2 separate regions of the Homo sapiens genome follow, and region 1 is linked to region 2. Evidence: fine-mapped expression QTL. A gene starts in region 2. The other region holds a variant in brackets. All regions are shown on one strand. Distances are between the middles of the regions.

Evidence for each region. PIP is the estimated chance that this variant, and not a neighbour inherited with it, causes the effect. A credible set is the group of variants that fine-mapping cannot tell apart.
Region 1: its variant is the best candidate, but not a certain one, in a credible set for the expression of AMOTL1 in blood mononuclear cells (TOPMed, PIP 0.64).

The regions. Positions count from the first base shown.
Region 1 is chr11:94,726,278-94,731,656 of GRCh38, forward strand. All of the region lies in intron 1 of PIWIL4-AS1 (PIWIL4 antisense RNA 1), which reads right to left. It also overlaps a transcript of AMOTL1 not described here. Among named protein-coding and RNA genes, the nearest start is that of PIWIL4-AS1, 11 kb to the right of the region's middle. The variant C/T (reference allele first, on the strand shown) is at 2,868.
Region 2 is chr11:94,765,514-94,770,892 of GRCh38, forward strand. It overlaps AMOTL1 (angiomotin like 1), which reads left to right and starts at 2,843. Exons shown (of 13, transcript NM_130847.3): 1 at 2,843-3,047. The coding sequence starts at 2,999.

The sequences.
Region 1 (5,379 bases), 39 kb before region 2:
TATCGGTGTACACAAATCTCCTTTGAGAGCTTTATGAGATCTAATACCTAGGTAGAGTCTTCACCCACACTGGGCATTTATTCATCCATTCAATCAACCAATATTTATGAAGTGCCAATTATGTATTCATAGTATTCCAGTATTCCATAGACCCCAATGTCCATCTATGCAGGTAGCTTAGTTCTAAAAAAGTGATTCTCAAAGCCAGAATTACATCTGTAAGTTTTTGATGGTCTTTCCCATTCACCCACCCCAACTTATCAGGCATATTAGTATTTGTGCTGTCATTAGAAAGTATTTCTTCACTTCCTGTTTCCATGGTTGCATTATGTTTTTCATTAAATTCTCAAGGTTGCATTACATTTTAGTTTCTTCTTCATGGACTTTGTCTATGGCAGGGTTTAGACTTGGATGGAGGTTAAATACCCAATAGAAATTCTTTAGTAAGTTATTTTATATGGCCTGAGGCCTGAAAACTCTTTTCTAGGCTCCAGAATCTCCTGAGCAACTCTGGGGCTTCCTGTGGCTAAAGGGAGGTGTTGGAATTTCAGTAACAGGTGTGATGGATCAAAACCTTCCTCAAAATACATGTGTTTGATGCCATTTCATTTTACATTTAGTGCTTGGTTTTCCCAAGCTGAAGTGAAATTCAAGCATCAGAGAAACCAGCAGGGGTTGCAGGTTGAAGTTAATAAAACACTCACCATGGGCCTATGTAGTTCAGATTAATAAAATAAAATCATGGATGTGAGAGCCTAACCTCACACATCCATATCATCTTGCAAATCTGTTTCCTGGAAGCCAGAGGGTACCTAGGCCACTGGGCCAAGAGAGATGGGAATCTTCTTTGAAAACCACTCTTTGGTTAATCACTAAAGCCTATTTTTGTCAAACAAAGCTCTTGGAGTCTCTACTTCACTTCCCAAAGATACTGCAAAGATTAATGAAGTGATTTTGAATTACCTGTTGTAAATAAGTGTTGCTTTTTAAGGATGTAGTATTATTGTTAATACTATTTAATAATCAGCAAAGATATAAAATGTTGGATATTTACTTCAGTTGATTAAATGATGATACCAGTGTGATTATGGCCCAATATTGGATTTCTACTCCAGACATGTTTTTAGTTTTGCACAGAGAACGTGTCTGGTTCAATGGCAGACTACTTCTAGCCTCAATCAGCCACCTCTTGTGTGCTGATGTCTCAGTTGGCTAACGGATAAATAATGCAGCTTCCTCAATCCACTGACATGGGTGGATAGGTAGCCTTTGTATACAAAAGCATATTATTATAGGCTGCAAGTCTGGGAGGCCTGAAGAGGTCTTTGCAAGAGGAAATTAAGCCCAGAGAAAGTAACTGGTTTGCCCAAAGTCATCCAGTTAGTGCAGAGTCAGGGCTAAAATCTGGATTTATTGATAAGTCTAACGTTCTCACTATTACACTGTGCCATATTCACTCTGGTCTAGAACTCCCTTCCAAAATTTTTGGGTAATTGGATTCAACACAAATTGCTAGAGAAGCAGTACCCAATAAAGTGCACTACATTCTTTGGTACTTCCTAGTATTTTATTAGATATTGTTATTTGTTTGGTGCATCTCCCATAAGTATCATATTTTTCCAGGCAGATAGCCAAAAAGCAACAAGTCAATCTACCATGTCTGCAGTCTGGCAGGCAATGCAGGAACCCGCAGGGCAACTCTGAACAGCATTCTAGAGACCAAATTAAGCCAGCTGGGCTGACTACAGCAAATGATGATTGGTGCCTATCCTAATTAGGCTGACAGGACTTCTACTGTGTGGATGTCCCACTTGCTGCATTCACAGATGTGATGAATCAGTCATGTTCAATTACTCAATCACTTTCATTTGAGAACCTGCTACATGCAGAGCGTTATCAAGATCTCTTTGTAATATGGGCAAGAGTTTGGCCATGAGTTGTAATCAGCCCAGGTACAGTTTGCATATAGAGAGATTCTTCAGGCTGGCCTTCTCAGTGGTGGCCAATGGAGTGGGAATGATCTTTTTACGAAAGCCAAGAGCCCTTGTAACTGTGCCTTTCTATTATAGTTTTCAAAAGGAAAAGGAAAATTGGTCTCCATGGTCCCTCTTGGCTCTGAAGTGTTCTTTTAAAATAATATTTATTGCATACCTTTTTGAGATTACAAAAGCAATACATGTTCATTGTTGAAAATGCAGAAAATTACAAGGAAGATAAAAAGTAGTCATAATTCTAATACAATGAAAACTGCTTCTAACTTATTAGTTCAAGTTTTTTTAGTCATTTTTTAGGCAAATAGAAGAGTGTGTATCTTTTAAATAAAATTGAGATCCCACTATATCCTGCCCTGAAATTCTAGGAGTCTATAAACTATGCACAACTAAATAGTAAATTTCTTGCTCAAAGCCTGGCATACAATAGTCATTCCACAAATATTTGTTAACTGAATGGTGAGGAAAACCTGGTTTGTGGGCTTGAGCAACTTCACACTCAGGCCATACCCAAATCTAGACAACGAGCTTTGTGTGCCAAAGGAATGAAATGAGCTAGAAACTGACCACTTTCCTTCAAGAAAGCTTCTCTTCACAAAGAGAACATCAGTGGTAATTCAAATCCCTTTTTTATATTCATTATTTATTTCAGGAGATTGCTTCCATTTGATCTGAAAGCTATACATACAAGGGGCTAGAAGCATGGACCTCAGTGAAAAATGGACTTTGGAGGAAGGAGCCTGGTTATCCCATGCTGGAATTCATCATTTTGCCAGCACCAGAGCGGGTAAGGCCGTTTTTGATGTCCCTGATAGCATGGTACTCTTCAGCTTCTGCACCTCATTATGTCAATCCACTGTACTCAGTACGTGCCCA[C/T]GCTGTTTGTCTTTTCAAAAGCAGCTGAGTGGAGAGGAGAGGGAATGGACTTTGAAGTCAGACAGACCTGGGTTCAGATACCGAATTCACTATTTACAAGTTTTATGGCCTTGAGAAAATCTGTCATTCCCTGGGCTCTAACATGAGAGTAAGAATGCCCACTTTGCAGTGTTATGATGAGGACCATCAGCTGTCATGTAATGAGCTCTTGCCCTGGCCAGGTGGGAAGCTGGTCAGACATCTTTGAGCACCTAACATGTGTTAGGCACTCTGTTCCTGTTTTGCTCATTTCTCCTCTCAGCAGCCTGTAAACATTCAAGTTGAGGATAAAGCAACCAATATAAACAGAGTAGGCCAGCTCTTTCCCTTCTTTATGATTATCCAATTAATGTGACTCAGCATTAAATGATGGAGATATTGTTACTTTCCTGGAGCAGAGCATACAAATATAAGAACCATACCCTGACACAGAGCTGTGGTCCTCTGTCAGGTCTAAGAGTCCGCTCCCTCCTCCATCCCTCAAATCTGATAGAGACCTACTTTGATGGTAGGAGCCATTCTATAGATGGACGATGAAAGGTTGTTGAGGTTAATGCACTCACAGATGTTTTCACAAGGATATGTCTCCCATTTGTTTGTTGTTTATTCATTTATTCAACAAATATTATTGAGTATCTATTTTATGCCAAGCACTAGTAATACAAGAACGAGAGCAAGATAGACATAGAGAACAACAGACTATACTCTCTGATGTGCCCACCTCTAAAACAGGGTAACTTATATGGCAACAAACATTTGCAGACCTTCTGCACTACACCAGGGTATGTCTTCCAACCAAGACTGCTTCACACAATGAGATAGTCGCCAAAGGGAAGACAGGAAGCTTTGAGAGAGGAAATTTGGATGCATTCCACCCAAAAACCAACTGTCATTTGTTCCTGTGCACTGTCATACTGTCATTCCAGCCTCTTTTTAGAAGTTCTTAAGCCAGCATCTCTTCACACCCCATGGAAAAAAACTAAACCTCCCTAGTTCAACACACAGCCCTTCCAGATCTGACCTCTGCCTGCCCCTCTAGATTCATCTCCTGCTGCCCATCACTAATAGCAACCCCCTCCTTCTCACTGTATCAGCCTCTTCCTGGATCCCTGAATACATCCTGCCCTCACATGCCTGTGAACCTTTGCAAAGGCTGCTATTATCATCTCTCTTCCACTTGGCCAGTTCCTACTCATCTTTGAAGCTTCTGCTTAAGTCATCTGTTCTGGGATCTCTTCCTGCCACCACCTCCTACCAACCCCCATCCTGGTCTGAAGGAGAGTCTCTCCTCCCTCCTCAGTGCTGCCATAGCCTCTGCAGATTCCCATGTCACAGCACGTATCATCACACTGTATTGTGCTTGCCTGAATCCTGAACAGCCTGTGTGCTTCTTGAGACAGATGCCTTGTTTTATTCATCTTTGTACCCCTTTCACTGTTGCATGGCAAATTCATGGTGTATATTTGATGGCTGGCTGGCTGTGTGGCTGGATGAATGAATGAATGAATGAATGACAGTTGGGACCACATCCTCTGAATATCTCTGCCTTCATTGAAAACCTTTTTTGGCTGTGGGAACCTATCTGATTATACAACTGCTTCTGGCACCACCACATCACTTCACCTTGCTTTCAGCACACCTATAGCATTTGATTCAATGACCCTAGGCTTGTTACCAAAGCCTAAAGGCAGAGGAGAGAAAGAAAGTGTGGTTTTCCCACTGATGCTTGGTGCTTTTGTAACCTAGGCAATAGAATCATCCACCAGAGAATTTTAGAACTGAAAGAAGCCTTAGGGATCACTGTAACAAAGGGGTGGCTAAAAACTCCATACTGTGACCATCTCCAAGCTCTGTCTTATCCTTCTGTGAGTTTACCATGTCATCTATCTGCAATCTTTGGGGCAAGGCTGGAACATAGGAAGGGAAGCCAGACCTGTGTCTAGGTTTGCCTAAAGAGAAGGTACTGCTTTTGGGTAAGTGACGAGCTTCTGGGGCTGAGGGAAAAGCTTAGTTCTGGTAGGCAACAGATACCATAATATCTGGTTCCAGTTCAGATAATCAGTCTATATCCTGCAAATATGAAGGCATCCAAGACAAAGCAGGGCAGTGTTGTGGTGAAGTGGGTGAAGCACAGTCACCCACTGTCAGTGGGTGAAGCACAGACACAAGGAATCAGTGTGGCTGAAATCTGTAAATCCTTGTGGGCAGCTGATACTAAGGTGGTTCTCAGAGGCCTGGGATGAGATCCAAGAAAGGTGCAGGTCCTCAGAGGACAGAGTCAGGTGCCAAAATGAGAACCTCGTGAGGTGTTGAAGTAGGATGAGGATACTGGCACTCGGAGAGGAAGTGTAATGTGCCAGAGCTAAGTCAGAAATGGACGAATTATAGAAAAATATTTTAACCATTTATTAGATATATAATATTGCCAGATGTTACACTAAGCCTTTTTTGTATAGATATAGACTATCTCAAT
Region 2 (5,379 bases):
GGAAATTAAGGCACAGGAGGGAAACATTGGTCTCCAGCAGTGTTTTCTGCCTGTGCTTCCATGTATCTGATTACTGGGTATTAATTTGAGGAGTCTAGGCTAGGTCCACCTGATTGAATCAGAAGATCCTTGAACCCACAAGCTGTGCCTAGCACTTCATTGCAGGTCTAAGAATCTGTAGCATTTGATAGAAGGACCCACTTCTTAAAACTTCCTCTGGCTTCCATGCCTTTACCTTTTCCCAGCTCTTCTACTTCTCCAGATTCTTCCTCTTCTCCCTCCTTCTTTCCCTGTTTTCCAGTTGTGGACATTCTGTTAATGAACTGATCTTCAAAGCTTCATCTCTCCTTTTCTCTACACCTCTGTCCTCCACTTCTCACCCAGTCCCTTGTTCCTTGTTTCCTCTTGCCCAGAGGATAGTAAGTCACTCAGCATCTTTCTCAAACCGTTTCCTCTTCTCAACTGTGCTTCATCTGTCATTGGTCTAATGATCCATTCTTCTAAGACTGCAAGATCTATTCTTCCTATGACTGGGCTCAAAGCCTAGGTTAACTTGATTACTTTGTCCTTTTCCCCAGGATAAACAACGAGTCAATGAGAAGAATAAAATCTTGCTTCAAAGATTTGATACCTTTCTTTATGACATCTGGTATCTCCAAAGATATGGTATCTCTCATTTCCTTTTTATCACCTCTGTCAACCTCACCTATCATTGCTTCCTGCAACTATCCTAGATAGTCTCTTGAAATAATAATAGCAAATGTATATTGAATACTACATGCATTGTGCTGAGTATTTTACATTTGTTATTTTATTCAGTCTTCACAACCACTCTGTGAGATGCTATTTTCTTCATCTTGCCAAAAAGGATACTGAGGTTTAGAGAAGTTAGGCAACTTGCTCAGCGTCACACAGATACTGAATGGTGGAGCTGCAACTCAGCTCATGCCTGTTTTGTTCTAAACTTGATGGTTGTAACTTGGAAATTTTGCTGCTTCCTAGACTATAGGATGGTATCTAGGAGTGGGCAATTAGTAAAGATTAGTTTCCTTTCTTCTTTTTCTATCCATCACTTCTTCCCCAATTTGTATTAAATTCGCGCAAATGTTAGGTGAATCAGTGGTCCCTTCACTGTCCATAAGATAACCACTTCAGCTCCTAATTTGCGATTCAGGGTTCACAATGTGTAATACAAGGCACATTGAGGCAGAGGTTGTTTCTATACCTGGCTTTGCTACTAAACTTGTTCTGTAACATTGGACAAGTCATTCAACAGCTATGCCTGAGCTTCTTCATCCGGCAAGTGAAAGGTTTAGTTGACACTTTCTTAGATTCTTTCCAGGCCTACATTTTTGTGACGTTGTTATTCTGCCTTCCCTTGTTTTCTCCTCGTTTCTGGTAAAAACGCTTTCCTCTATGCCTTCTTCCCAAGCACCCAGACCTTGTCATCTCCCTCTTGGCTTTTGCCTCTGCTTGCCCAGTGCTGCCTTTTCCTCTTTCTGCTGTGTCTGAACTCCACCACCCTCCCAGGCTTTTCCTTCTGTGTAGTCAGTGCCTCTCTCCGCCCTTCCCAGGCATCTGCAGTACTTGGATCTCCTGCTTTGTTGCTTGCCTGTTTTCTGTTCACACATCTTGTCTTCTTAGACAGATAACAGATCCTTGAAGGGCTGGTCAGCTGCTCTAAGTTTCTTTTGTGTGCTAAGTTTCTTTTGTGTGTACCAGGGTAGATGACTTTAAATGGAGTAGGCATTTCATAAATAATTGTTAAATGATTACATTTGGGCTTTATCTTGAGAGCAGAGTTTACTCAGTAGGAGGGCCCATCAGGGGAATCAGAATCAGGACATGCAACCCACCAGAACTGATGAGAGGTAAAACTGCTGGCAGTCTAGTTAGGGAACTGCCACAATCCAGGGAGGAGTCCCTGAAGGCCGGACCTAGATAGCAGGTAAACAGAGGCAGGGAGCACCAGATAAGAGAGGCTTGGTGTGCGCTAACTCTCCCACTAACATCCTGGGCAGCAACTGTACAGTTACCTAGCTTTCTCTTCTCCAAGCAGTAGAGCTGCCCGGAAAAAGCCAGGCAGAAGTGCTATGGGGCAGGCTCGGGCACCCCAGATTAGGGCTCCAGAGAGCCGCCAGTATAAACCAATATAATGAGGTGGATGAGTAGTTCTCAGCACAGCCTGATTTTAAGAGGTGGGGCAACATTTTCCCAGAGTCGCTTACTTTCTTTACCTCTACTCAGGCAGATAACAGCCTGGGGATTTATGGCCAGAGGATGTACGGTTCTGCGAACACATTTAATATCCGAGGCTGTCAGGTCTGTTTTGGCCCTTCTGTTTGTCAACGGAGCACATAGTAGCAGCTTATCGCCCAATCTCAAGTGCGTGATGGAAGCACTGGGGCCTGGGGAATGCTGAGAAAAGTGTGGCCACTTTCTACCTGGAAATTCCACTTAAGAAGAAAAAAAACCAACCTAAGCAAATCTAGACTTTTGGGCAGATCCGGAAACAGAATTTTGGCCGGCATTGGGCTGGTGGGGAAGGAAGACAAAGTGGAGGGAGAACTGGTGAGTCTGAAATTAATCAAAACCCGGCAGGGGACAAAGGAAGGGATGCTGTCGCCCTCCTAAGTCTCAGGGAGACACGTCAGCTTGAGCTCTGGGCAATTTCAGCCTGGCAGTCTCGCGGCCCGGGGAGGGGCGGCGGGTGTCTGCAGACGGGCTCTAGGGCCCAGCGGCCGGGCGCCACGGCGGGGGTGGAGTGTAGGGTTCTAGTGACGAGCCCGGGCGACCCTCCCCGGCCCGCGCGCGGGGAGCGGGGAGCGCGGACGGCGGCGGGAGCGCGCGAGAAGCTCTAGGACCCAGCAGCGGTTGTCGGGTTTGGGGCTGGAGGTGAAGCCCTGTGTGAATGGGGTTGATTGTCCGGCGCCACTTCCCCGCGCTGCCCGGCAGCCGTCTTCCCCAGCCGAGGGACTGAACTAGCCATGATCGCCTCATGTGGAGGGCAAAGTTGCGCCGGGGAACTTGTGAGCCTGCGGTGAAAGGTAACCAGCCCCCACTCGAGGTGCCGGGAGGGCGTCTCCGAGTCTCCCACGCGAAGAACCCAGTCGCCCCGGGCTCCCCGGGCCCCTGCTGCTCACGGAAGGGGGCAGCTTCTGGGGGCCCGGGGCTGAGATCCCAGATTGTTGTTTTTAAGCGGGTTCCCTTGCCCCGCTCCAGGTCCAGTTGCCTGCGGGCCGGGCCTCAGCGTCTTGCCGCCCCGCGACCCACGTTGACTGAAGTTGTGGCCCCGGGGTTTGGGCCCCGGGGTGCTGCGCGCCCGACGCGGGGCTGGCCTTTCCTGAGGGGCGCAGCCATATGGCCAGACACTCCGAGGCGCGCCCGCGCCCGCGCGCGGGTCTCGCGGCGAGGGAGGGGACGGAAGGGGGTGTCCGGTGCAGCTTTCCCCGGCGCGAGACAAAGGCGCGCGCACCGGCCCGCCCGACGGGCTCTGGCGCTGTGGACTGGACCCTTTCTGCCCGCCGGCCAGACCCGGCTCTGGCGGGTGGGGGCGACGAAAGGGTCGCACCCCAGCCCCAGACGCTCGGATCGCGTTAGCTGCTGCTCCTTCTTTGTTCTCTCCCCAGACAAGTTTCTTTGACAAACTGGAGAGTTACATCCAGCTCCCGCTTGCCTGTTAGGGCTGCCTTTACAATAATCTGCTTTCGCGGGGAGAAAATTTAAACTTTCCAAATGGAACTGTTTTTTCTTGGAATGTGACATTTGTGGCAGGAGGGAGAGTGGTACGTTGGCCGATGACAGCCGAGCGGAACGGTGGCCTAGTGCCGGGACAGGGACCGAGCGTGCCCCATAGGCGGCCGGGCTGGAGGACGCGGCGGCAGAGCAGACGAGCCCTGGCGCGCACCTCTAGGGCCTCCGCTACCTGGACTGCGCTCGCGGCGACGTGTCCAAGTTTCCCCCCTCAGAGCCCCAGGCCGAGAATCCCGGGTATCTGCGCAAAGCTCCCGCGCCTCGCCCACCCTACTCTTCCTATCTTTACTGATGACTAGGAAGACTTTCCTTTTCCATTTTTGTTCGAAGATTTTTGCCTTTTTGGCTTCGGTGTTGGTTTCCTGTCTCCGCGTGGCAAATACCTTTTGGCCGGGCTAGCGTGTGGATCACCTGGACTGGGGTTTCAGAGGTGGGCCCTGAGCGTGCGGCCTCCTGAGACGATGCGGTTTGGACCCAACATTTTGTCCCCATGGTCCCTCAGCTCCCTTTCTCTGTGAGGCCTTGGTTTCCCATTTTCTTCTCCTGAGGCATGTTATGAGAACTGAGTTTTTGTACTGCTTATAGAAGGCCTTGGTGGTGGTGGGGTACGTGGTCTCGAGAGCCAGTTGTGATACCTCGAAGATGCTTTCGGCTAACCAAAGCAGTAACGTGCTAACCTGCTCACCATAAACGAATTAAACCAGAATAGAGGGCTATTAATAGCTACAGTTCCAGAAAATTTCCTTCCTTTTCGGGAAGCAAAAAGTCAAGGCTTGAAATATTAAACAATCATGGCTCCCTGCTTCCAAAACTGGCCTATGGGTCACTGCCAAACTGGCTAAGATTTCCCCTGGCTGCATACCACTCCTGGGCCCGGGCAGCTGTGGAAGTCAGACCCAGGTTAACGATTAAGGAGCTCTCTAGATTGCAAGGTCTTAAAGAATCTAGAGCAACTGACATTTACTTCCTAGTAAGGTGCTCTGAGCCTTATAGTGTGTATCTACTTTGAAGGCTCTTTATGAGAATAATGTGGGAACAGTAGTTTAATATACTTTGAACTGTTAGTAAAGGGTGGAAAAGCACTGATTTGACTAGAATGAAGGAAAACACCGATTCGACCAGAATGAAAAGGGTAGGACATAGGTAGAAGGCTTTATACAGGCTCTACTTTTCCTTATGATGGTGGTGGGGGTTGGGGGGAGGGATGAGGATGTTTAGTTCTTGGAGTGCACTTTTGTTTTTCTGTGATGCATTTTTCAAGATAAATAAGGAAACCTTTGTAAACCTGCAGGTGGATAGGAGAGAAGGTGCTGTACCTGTAACGCCCCTTTCCCTCCCCCTTCTTTTTAAAATGCACAGAAGTCTTGGTCTTTCAGGTTCTTTGCAGATGATGGAGGATGTAGCATACTAATTTTCCAAAGGGCATGTGGAGATCAAAGCATTTAAAAATACATCTTTTCACGGAGGCTAATGGAGGATTTTCAGTTTAAATGAGATTTTAAAGTGCTGTCGTTAAGAAAAACACATGAATGCAGAAATGTGAGTGATTTTATGGGAAAGCACTCCGCTGATCAGACTTGAGAGTGTCTGCCCTGGGCCAGTTAGTCTAGAGGCTGTTGTGGGTAG